4 separate regions of the Homo sapiens genome follow, and regions 2, 3 and 4 are each linked to region 1. Evidence: fine-mapped expression QTL. A gene starts in region 1. Each other region holds a variant in brackets. All regions are shown on one strand. Distances are between the middles of the regions.

Region 1 (2,631 bases):
CCCGGCTAATTTTTTGTATTTTTAGTAGAGAGGGGGTTTCACCGTGGTCTCGATCTCCTGACCTCGTGATCCGCCCGCCTCAGCCTCCCAAAGTGCTGGGATTACAGGCGTGAGCCACCGCGCCCGGCCAGTTCAATGGATTTTAAAAATTATTATTCTCTAGAAAAAAGACCACGAACTTTGGAGTGGACATCCTGAGACCTGCCTACGAAGACCATTAGGGTAAAGAAGTCACCCCTTCACCCCAGGACCAGGAAGCCTCCAGGATGGCATAAGCGACCAAACAGCTGGGAGCCAAGCACAGTGCAGGGGGCTTGGGGTCGGCGGCCGGAGGCTGGGGTGGGTAAGACCCGCAGGGAACTCCGGGGCTCGGGCGGCGGCTCATTCCCCGGGAAAGGGCTCGCGGTGGGGACCAGGGGCAGTAGCAGCCGCGGACCCCGCGCGCAGGGGATGTGCGGGGCATCCTCTTGGCCAGTTCCGACCTTCCCCGCCGGTGGCGATGCCCCGGACGCGTCGTCCTTTCCCAGACCTCCTCTTGGGGCCGAGGCTCCAGCCCCAGGGTCTGCGGGCGGGGCCGCGAACCTTGAAAGCCCCCGCCGCCAGCTCGCCCGCGGGACCCTGGCCCGGGGCGCCCTGTCCCGCGCCGCAGCGCAGACCCGCGACCGCGCAGGGCAGGCAGGGGGACGCCAGGTCCCTAAGCGCCCACTGCCCTGGGGCGCGGGCGCCGCCTGCGAGAGGCAGGGCAGGGCAGGAGCAGAGCAGGGACGAGGTCAGGGACACGGGCAGGGCAGGGCGGGCGTCCTCTGAACGGAGCCCGCGAGTCCCCGCCCGGGACGCTGCCCCCCGCCCGCTGCCACCGGGCGCCGGGGCAGGACCCAGCGGGGCAGGCGCGGCCGCAAGCCCCGAGCCCCAAGGCCGGCCGCGCAGCGCCGCGTCCCGCCCTCCCCGCTCCGCGGCCGGCCCGGGCGATGCGGACACAAAGGGGACGCGCGTCACTCTACCTGGGCCTGCTCGTCCGCGGTGCGCGGCTCTGACGCCTCCGCCCGGTACTGGCTGCGGGGTGCCGGGTGCCCGCAGTTTGCCGCCCGCGCCTCCCCGCGCCCGCGCAGCCCGCACGGCCCGCACTGCAATGCCAGCCCTGCCGCCTCCCGCCTGCCGAGAGCCCGCGCGGGGAGAAGCGGCTGCGCGGGCGGGGCGCGAGCGCGCACAGAGGCCGGGCACGCGGGAGGCTCGGCCCCGGCCCCGCCCCCGCGCCGAGCCGCACAGCGCCCCCTGCCGCCCGCCTGCGCCGGCCCGAGGCCCGGAGCCGCCCCGCAGGCCCCAGGACAGGCTCCGGCACGAGGAGGGGCTGCGGAGACCGCCCGTGCACGCTAACATGAAAATGCTATTCCTGCTTTAGTGGCCTCCAGAAGACACTCCCCTGATTCCTACACCGAGGGAACACACAGCAGCAAGCTAGGAAAGAAGGGGTGACCCAGCCCAACGCTGTAAACCAGGGCGCGAACCGGCGTTGAGCTGTGCAGCTGCGCCCTGGGCTCCAGTCCTGCTCTGCCGCAGACCCCACCGGAGCCAGCACCTGCCTCCCCGACCCTCGCTGGGGCGGCTGTGAGATGAGCCCAGAGCCTTCCTGAGCCAACCCTCGCAAGGAAAGTCTGTCTGTTCACCCCACTATCCTTGTCTTGAAGGATGAAGAAAAGAGGGCCCCCCGGGAGGTCCCAAAAGGTGGAATGGACATCTGGGATCCAAGCACAGCAATTTCTTTATTTTTCTTAAGGTATCCAGCTTGTTGGAATCTAAGATCTGCGAAGGTATTAATAGAATTCCTGCATCTTCTGCCACTCCCCATAGAAGCTTGAAGTTACACAAATGTTAAATTATACGTCAGATGTGCATATATGAACAAAACCTACGAGTGTGCATGAAATAACACCTTCTTAAATATATAGATTCTTTTTTCTGCAATATTAAATGGAAACCCCACTAGAACATCGTTTTTCCTTAATAGCATACCCTCCACACTGTGTGGTCTAAATTCAAGCTCTACCACCTACTAGCCATTAAGCAAGTTATTAAGGTCTTCGTGCTTCCATTTTCTTACGTGGAAAATGAGGTGGCAATAGTATGTATGAGTTCTTCGGAGGGATTAAACAAGTCAAATAGGCCAAGTGCCATGGCTTACACCTGTAAGCCCAGCACTTTGGGAGGCCAAGGCAGGAGGACTGCTTGAGCCCAGGAGGTCAAGGCTGAAGTGAGCTGTGTTTGCATCACTGCACTCCAGCCTGGGCAGCAGAGTGAGACTTTGTCTCTCAATAAATAAAGAAATAGTCAAATTAAATATAACTGGCAAACTAAAACAACTCCATAGTCCTTAGCTACAATTTGTCTCATTTCTCCAAAGAATTAAATCAGATGATTCTTAACTAACTCAAAGCTCTGCATAATTTGTCTTCTGCTACACATACATCTTTATAGTAAAATAAAATAAAGCTGTCCCCTCTGTATTGAGAAGTTATTCTGGTAAATATTTGACCTCTTCAAATATATGAACGAGCACTTGCCTTCTAATGCCTCAGTTTCAGATTCTTTTTAGAAATGTCATTATTCAAGAAAAATGCACAATGGGAAGAATCT
Region 2 (2,705 bases), 76 kb before region 1:
GGGTACAAGTTCTGTCGGGCTGTTGGGGAAGTTGCAGGGTAAAGAGTTCACGCTTTGCAGTCAAGCAGACCTGGCTTCAAATTCCTTTTTTTTGGCCACTTGGTTATGCTGATGTTGAAGATATCACATAACTTAAATTTAACTTCTGTGAACTCAATTTTTGTTTTTGTTGTTTTGTTTTTTCCCTCTGTAAAGCCTGTATCACCATCACCACTCATGTAGACTTGGGAAGAGTGAGTGAGAAGTAAGAAGCAATATATTAGAATAATATATCTAATATATAGATACTAGGAGCTTGGTAAGTAGAAGTCATTATGATATGTCAGGTTAACAAGCTTAGACTTTTACCTACATAGACAAAATGGATAAAACAAGCTGTTGGGAAGAGATATCATATGGTGAAATTAGTCATTTCGGAAGTTCAATCCAATGGAGAAAATTTTTAGAAGAATCAAACATCAAAACCTCCTAAAGCCTCCTCCCTTATCGACAGCCATGCACTATGCTCCCAGCCTGGACATCACCCGAGAACGCATTACCCAGAGGCAGAGCTTAACCGCTCCACAGAGGGCCCTGGAATCCCCACCTCCACCCCGCGTGAACAGTTCCCTGCCCCACAAGCCAGTTATAGCCTCTGTGCTGGACCTCTGCCCTGCCCCATCGTGCTTGTTCCCAAGACAATTCTCTCTCCTTCCAGCTTCAGATCTGGGCTCCTTTTCCTGTTTACTGCCTCTCTGTTGTGACCTCCTGGCACAGCGTACAGGGTTCCATCTGTCTGACTTCCTTTCTGCCTGGACCATGATTTCTATCTGGCCCCCAGTGGCTTCCCCTGCCCTGGGCACAGGTCAGCCCATGGCCCTCACCTCCCACTTCCCCCGCCAGCCCCATGAGCTGGATTTGAAGCAGGTCACAGCACCATTTCCAGGAATCACATCACTATTCTTTCCCCAACAGAATACACAGTCTCTGAGTTGTGCTCAAAATCGTGATTCAAATGGTGACAACAGGATATATTTTACAGAAAAAAAAGGGGTCTATATTGTCTAAACCCATCATGGACCTTCCCTACACACAGGATGGCCTTAATATGATTTTGCAAACAGCGAACAGCTGCGAACTTGCAATCAGATTATGCTAAGAGAATCACAATGCACAATAAAAGAAAGCACAGTCTTTGTTTTCCTAATGTGAATGTCAAGTCATATGAAATGGCAAACTGTTTTAGGAACATCTGGTCAATTATAAGTATTATTCAATTTAAGCAATTCAAAATGTGCATAAGGCAATTTACTTATTAAGCATGACTGAGACCGTGCAAAGGATTG[T/C]GCCTTGTGATGAAAGAGGTGTGGACACAAGGATAAGAGAGAGCTGGAAGAGAAAATAGTCCACTGTAGAGAGATTCAGCAGATTCCTGCAAGGTCCAAGGTGGTTATTTGACCAAAACTATCCCATCTCTGAGCCCCAGGGCTACGGACCTCTGTAGGCCCCTATTCTTCCCACCTTTACTCCTTCAAAGCAAACCTTGGAAAGGTAGGCAGCTGCCAGCCAGTCATCATCCACCTCTTACTTTCATGCCTTCCTCCAGCAAGTCCCTGCTCTCCTCCAGTTGCCTGGGACACTCTCATGTTTCCTCTGCAGCCTAACTCCCTTTTCCTTCCTTACCCGTTCTCCACACCCTACAAACCCTTCACACCCAGCATCAGTCCTGGTGCTGTGTGATGTCTCCTCTGATTTCTCACGTCTCCCCGCTGTCTCCCGTCTCTGGGTCTCTGCTGTGTGTGGTCCACCAGGCTTCGCAAGCAGCGCTCTCTAAACACCAGCATCAGCATCACCTGAGAACTTGCTGGAATGTAACTGGTTGGGCTCCAACCCCGACTCATTAAAACAGAAACTCTGGGGAGGTGGGTGGGGCGGCACAGTGATCTGTTTCCGTGAGCCTGGCAGGGACTGTGATGCACAATGAAGCCCAAGAACCACTGGTCAGTATCATTCCACTCAACAGCATTTCCAACCAAGTCTATCTCACTCAAGGCTGTGTGGGTCGAAGCCCACCAAGTGCACCGTTCTTCAACAATACCAAAACTCAGCTGTCCTGTCTACAAGGCCCTGGCCTACACTCTCATAGTAACTCCCATTTCTTCTGGGTAAGTGTGGCTTTGGAGGTCTACCATGTCACCAGTCTTTCTGGGTAAGTGTGACCCTCAAAGTCTGACATATGTGTGAATTTACCTCCCCAACTTGACGATACATTATTCAAGGGTAGGAACTATGTTCTAGCCTTCTGGACAGTGGTCACAGCAGCTATTCCATAATTATAACAACAATTATATATACATATATATATGTATTTATGAGAGAGATATATATGTATGTGTGTGTGTATATATATTATATATGTATGTATGAGAGAGAGAGACTGTTAAATGTACATCAGACATTGCGTTCGCCATTTGCATATACTACTTCATTTCTCTGCACAATGACTCTGAGACTTTGATAGTTTGCTATTATTCAAATTTTACCAATGAGTAAACCAAGGTTCGGAGAGGATTAGGGTAACCTGCACAAACATACAGGGCTATTTAGTCACAGTCTGTGTGGCCCTAAGACACAGCCATTTACTGTGCTACACCTCCTCTGTATATCCTCATCAGCTGAATGAGATGGAGCCTTTTGGATTTGTAGAGATATAAGACAAACCAACT
Region 3 (2,705 bases), 110 kb before region 1:
TACTATTATTGGATGGACTGGATACATTCATCCTTGCTGTGCAGAACAGACATAAATATATCCCTTCATGAAACACGACTTGATTTGCTTGGACTGTCCTAGCTACAATGGTTCCAACAGATAAATAGGCCTGCTATTTAATTATAGTTTTATTTATTTATTTATTTTTATTTTTTGAGATGGAGTCTCACTCTGTTGCCGAGGCTGGAGTGCAGTGGTGCCATCTCAGCTCACTGCAACCTGCGCCTCCCAGGTTCAAGCAATTCTTGTGCCTCAGTCTCCCATGTAGCTGGGACTACAGGTGCATGCCACCATGACTGGATAATTTGTATTTTTAGTAGAGACAGGGTTTCACCATGTTGCCCAGGCTGGTCTTGAACTCCTGACCGCAGGTAATCTGACCACCTCGGCCTCCCAAAGTGCTGGGAATATAGGCGTGAGCCACCGAGGCTGGCCTAATTATAGTTCTTAAAAAAGTATGCATCAATAAATTATTCTAAAACTAAAATCATAGCTTCATCATTTTGGCAAGATGCCCACGCCCTAATATGGGCAAGGAAGGAGAATGAGAAGCTAAATAGCAGCAACCTGTGCATCAGGCCTCAAAGCTCCAGAGACGTGTGGGCCTGGGAGATTGTGCCCTCCCGTCAGGGACATGGCTCTTGCAGGCACACACGGTAGGGTGTGTTTGAGAAACACTGAAGCAGAGCATACTTAGGAGAAGGCTGCCGTATGAGACCAGAACTTCCATTCTGCCAGAGAGCAAAGGGCTTGCACGTTTTCCCGCCCTGTAGATGATGTGAGTGTCAATGAAGTCTTAAGACTGGCCCCAAGCCCAACAGCCCCCCAGCCCCCACTTCTGTCTGTCCTCACTATCCTGAACACCAGGAAGGAGTCCTGATCAGGAACCCCGGAGCCAAATCTGGTGTACCCTGATTTTGGATTTCCAGCCCCCAGAACCATGAGGAATAAATGTCTGTCATTTAACCTGCCTCATCTATGATATTATGTCACAGCAGCCCAAACTGACAATGACAGTCCCCGCTTAGACAAAACCTAAGATGCTAAAACCCCTTTAAATCCCAGGCTGGATCCTGAACCTGCATGAAGTGTTTAGACCCCAGGACTATACGAGTCACAAAGGCTTCTGTCCCCATGGCGCTCATGAGTTAATGTTTTCACAAACCCAGGAGAAACACCAAACGGTGTTGCTTCACTGTTACACAGGAGTAGGCACCAAGCTCTTTAGGAAACAGCTGGTCTATTTTTCTCATTCCAAATCTAAACCTCAAAGCTAAATGCCGCAAGGTGAAGCTGAAGGCCGTACTCACGTCCAGAGACTCCAGGCAGTACCAGCAGAAGGCGTGCTTGCAGTTCTTGCACATCATCTGCGCGCAGCCTTCGTCTCGCTCGATGTAGACTTTGCACTTGGGGCAGCGCTTGATGGGCGCGTCATCTTCTTCCATTTTGAAAGCAGCACTGTGGGAGAAACGCC[G/A]TGAGGACTCTGCACAAACGGATCCCACGGGAGACCCAGGAGCACTGGCTATGCTGGAAGCATCGGCTCCACTTCACAGACTGAGTTTTCTTGGTATTAAATGAAAAAACAAAACAAAAACCAAAAAACAAAGAAACAGAAACTCCAGAAAAAAAAAATTAACCAGAACACTGTGAATCAGCCACTTTGAGTTAGGAAAAATTTTTAAAAAATTACAGCAACATCAACACATATCTAAATTTAGAGATATATGTATACAAACAAAAGAAAATACAGCGAAAGGCTTATTATAACGGAGGTATCTGAATCATAGTGTTAAGGTCAAATATTGTATCCTTATTCACAGAGCTGTCTACTTTCCAAAGGGTTGATATAAATTTTATGTACTTTGCTGTTATAAGAAAAATAAATAAATGTTGCAAATACACACACACAAACACACACTGTTTACTTGAGATAGATCCACCTGGCTCTTCTTACAGAATTGTTTTCCTCAGAAGTTGGCTAGGTCTGCAGGGTTAGCAAGAAGGGCTTTAAGCTGAGGTCAGAGCTGGGTCTGCTACAAACCAGCTGTGGAGCAACCCTCCAAGCCCTAGTTTTCTCATCAGTGTGACCATGAGAAAAGATTCCGTGTGCCAAGAGCACAGCGCAGGGTGCAGCTTTTATGAAGTGCTTGATAAAGGGTAGCAGTAGTTCAATGTTGCTAAAGAAAGATAACACAGACATTAGGTATGACTCACCCCATGCTGTTAATTTTTAAAAGATGGGTAAGAATATTCAGAAAAGCATCTGAAGGAATAAATGATAAACTGTTAAGAGGAGTTATCACTGATTATGGGGGTCCATTTGCTATATTGTTGGAACTCACTATATCAAACAAACATCAGCAGGAGAAAATGCATCCCTCCTTCTCGGGGCAGCTTTTTCAGAATTTAACACATGTATGGGTATATATTCACGGCAGTTGAGCAAATTCTGGCTTTTTGAGTGCATTCTGGCTGAAGGATCTCTCACAAGCTTCCAGTCAATATGAGCATTAAATGTAGTTTCACTTTAGTAGGAGCTGTCTGATGATTGGCAGTGAACAATCCTCCACTTGGGGTGCACATTCCAACTGAACGTGACTGTTTGGTCCATTAGTAGAAGGCAACAGAGTAAGAAATAATGAGAGAAGCAGTATGTCCTCCTAATTAGGAGCACAGAGTCTTGA
Region 4 (2,705 bases), 130 kb before region 1:
ACTGATACTTGTTACTTTCCACTCCACAGGCTGGGCATAGACCCCCATCTCCTCTTCGCTGCTCCTTTTGGCGGCTTCCTAACCTCATGTCCTGGCCCTCATCCTCTGCATCCAAGCTCCCCTACATGCAGCTACCGTGGCGTAGGCAAATCCCATATCTTATTGTGTCAGCACCAACCTTAACCTGAAATCCTCCAGCCTGGCTTAAACCTTAAAAAGTGCATCCCCTCTGTCCCTTACCGCTCTACCCCGTCCACCTGCTCCACCTCCAATCCCCTCACCCTACTGGAGCTCAGCTCTGCACTGAAGGTTTGCCAAGCTCTCTTGGGGCGTCTGCGGCTTTACTTGCATGGGTGTGTTTGTGTGGTGGCATTCCCTCCCAATCTGTGCTCTGAGCAACCCCCTGCTCTCTCCATCCCCGACCCCAATTCCGTCTCCTCCAGAAATTTGCTCTGACTTCTCCTGCAGGGGGTGGAGCTCCTCTCTGCTACCACCTGTGGAGTGTGATCATCACCTTCCGGCCTGCCGCACTAGACTGTGATGTCTCCGTGCATTTGCATTGGTCTGTGTGGTGTGGTACCAAGGCACTGATGAAGAAAAGGGAGGATCTAAACTTCAGTCCAAGCCCTGCCAGGAACTAGCTTCAAGACTGCACCCGAGGCATTCTGCCTCACTGAGCTTCTCCTTGTTTATAAATATAGACGGGGTCTGAGTGGTCCTGACAGCACTGGGATTCCAGCACTTCCTCCCTTGGGAGCTCCCGTTCCCTTCGACATTCCCCTCCAATGCTGGTATACAGAGTCCTAAGTCTTCCCCATGGAGGCCAGTGAGGGAGCCAAGAATCTGCTTGTCTTTCAAAAGACTGTTGCTCTCCATTCCCTTAAAGGTATATGAGAGAATTTATGCTACTGAAATATAGGCAACGGTGAAGAATTTGGATTTAACGACACAGGAAGCAGAAGGCTCTCAATGGTTTTCAACAGAAGCATCACAAGATGGAAACAGAGAATGCCCCAGGAACAGAATGGTGAGAAGGGAGGAGGCTGGGAGCAGAAGATACTTTAGGAGGCCCCAGGTGTGTCCACGAGAGACTGAAGAGGACCTGCATTAGTCTGTTCTCACTCTGCTAATAAAGACATACCCAAGGCTGAGGCATTTATAAGGAAAAAAGGTTTAACTGACTCACAGTTCCACATGGCTGGGGAGGACCCACAATCATGGCAGAAGGTGAAGGAGGAGCAAAGTCATGTCTTACTTGGCGGCAGGCAAGAGAGCTTGCGTAGGGGAACTCCCATTTATAAAACCATAAGATCTCCTGAGACTTATTCACTACCACGAGAACAATATGGGGAAACCACCACCATGGTTCAATTATCTCCACCTGGCGCCACCCTGGACGTGTGGGGATTGTTATAATTCAAAGTGAGATTTGGGTGGGGACACAGCCAAACCATATCAGGACCCGAACTGAGGACAGGGAACCAGGTCCTACTCACTCGTGAATTCATCTCCTGGGAAAGGCAAACAGTTCTTCCTTCAAAGTCATGA[C/A]CAGCTTCCAACGTGCAACCAAATGAAACTTGGTATCGAATGCATTTTCGACTGAAAAAGCCGAGGAGATTGTGCTTTTTCTTATGACTTTCATCACACATCCTGCCCCTGGCGTTTCCAAAAGCCGTTGCATTTGGACTGCTTTCCCTCCTAAGCCTGTGTTAGCCTCGCCTTCTGAGCTTCCCACAGTACACATTTTTTGCAGGTGCATTTGCTTGTATTTGCAAGACAGAAGCTCACTTTGTTGGAACTTTCTTTCCTCGGTCCCTCTTCATCGTCTTCATCTCCTAATTGGTGTTTGTAATAACTCCCAGCTTAGTATCATCTGCAAGTTTCATTAATATGTTGATTCCTCCTTTGTCATTAATAAAAACATTAAATTATTATTTAACATTCATTGTGCACCAACAATGTATTAAGAGTTGTGCAGAAATGAGAAAAAGATCCACTCTGACTGCAACCTCATTTTCGTGTCGTTGAAAACTCAAATCGCTGAGCACAGTTGAATTTTTGTCATCTTCATCCTTTGTGGATTCCAAGAGACTCGTTTTTCAGGATTTTGTATGCCAGGTGAAATCAGCAAACAAAATCTCCAGAGGTTTTCTCTCCTGAGTGTGAATGATGTTACCTAATCAGCCATTTCTCATTCATTGCCTTACCATTGATCAATAATTTATATACAGCCAATTTCACCTCCTTCCTGGACTTAGTTATTTTGGAAGCATCATTTGCTCATTCAAGCAACATTTGTTGAGCACTGACTGTGCTCAGCCACTATACAGTGTTTCTGAAAATGCGGTACCTTCATATCTCTGTTTCTCATCCCTTACCCTCCTCTGCCTGGAAGGCCAGCCCATCCCCCAACAGCCCCCGCTGAAAACTATTCAGCCTTCAACCCTCAACTCAGAGGGATACCTTTGCACAGGGAGCCTCCCCAGGCCCTGCCTTCCCTCCAGGTGCAGCCATTCATTCCTCCTCTGTGATCCTATAGGGCCCCACAAACCCTCTCATAGGAGAGTAATTGTCTACACTGTAAATCCCACCACATCCTGAGCCCCCGGTGGGGAGGAGGGACTAGGAGGCTTTGCATCTCTATCATTCTCAGTTGCCACGGGTTTCTGCAAAGTAGGTATCCAATGAAGAGCCTGTGGCACCCA

Which allele goes with the higher level. Positions count from the first base shown, and alleles are read on the strand shown. Sizes are in standard deviations (SD) of each study's normalised expression. Not every link is listed here.
With allele T in place of C in region 2, the expression in unexposed skin of the gene that starts at base 1,212 in region 1 is higher (large effect, 0.86 SD a copy in GTEx).
For the expression in cerebellar hemisphere of the gene that starts at base 1,212 in region 1, A is the low allele of the variant in region 3 and G is the other (moderate effect, 0.44 SD a copy in GTEx).

The links.
Region 2: its variant is fine-mapped to the expression of RNF144A in unexposed skin (GTEx, PIP above 0.99).
Region 3: its variant is fine-mapped to the expression of RNF144A in cerebellar hemisphere (GTEx, PIP above 0.99). The same link has a PIP of 0.9 or more in cerebellum, left ventricle and tibial nerve.
Region 4: its variant is fine-mapped to the expression of RNF144A in whole blood (TOPMed, PIP above 0.99).

What each region holds. Positions count from the first base shown.
Region 1 is chr2:6,915,993-6,918,623 of GRCh38, reverse strand. RNF144A (ring finger protein 144A) reads right to left here and starts at 1,212. Exons shown (of 9, transcript NM_014746.6): 1 at 1,002-1,212. It overlaps GRASLND (glycosaminoglycan regulatory associated long non-coding RNA), which reads left to right. Exons shown (of 5, transcript NR_033997.1): 1 at 1-222; 2 at 1,400-1,774. RefSeq lists a silencer at 883-1,372.
Region 2 is chr2:6,991,463-6,994,167 of GRCh38, reverse strand. All of the region lies in intron 2 of RNF144A (ring finger protein 144A), which reads right to left. Among named protein-coding and RNA genes, the nearest start is that of GRASLND, 74 kb to the right of the region's middle. The variant T/C (reference allele first, on the strand shown) is at 1,326.
Region 3 is chr2:7,023,143-7,025,847 of GRCh38, reverse strand. RNF144A (ring finger protein 144A) reads right to left here. Exons shown (of 9, transcript NM_014746.6): 7 at 1,332-1,479. Among named protein-coding and RNA genes, the nearest start is that of GRASLND, 110 kb to the right of the region's middle. The variant G/A (reference allele first, on the strand shown) is at 1,496.
Region 4 is chr2:7,048,888-7,051,592 of GRCh38, reverse strand. It overlaps a transcript of RNF144A not described here. Among named protein-coding and RNA genes, the nearest start is that of GRASLND, 130 kb to the right of the region's middle. The variant C/A (reference allele first, on the strand shown) is at 1,549.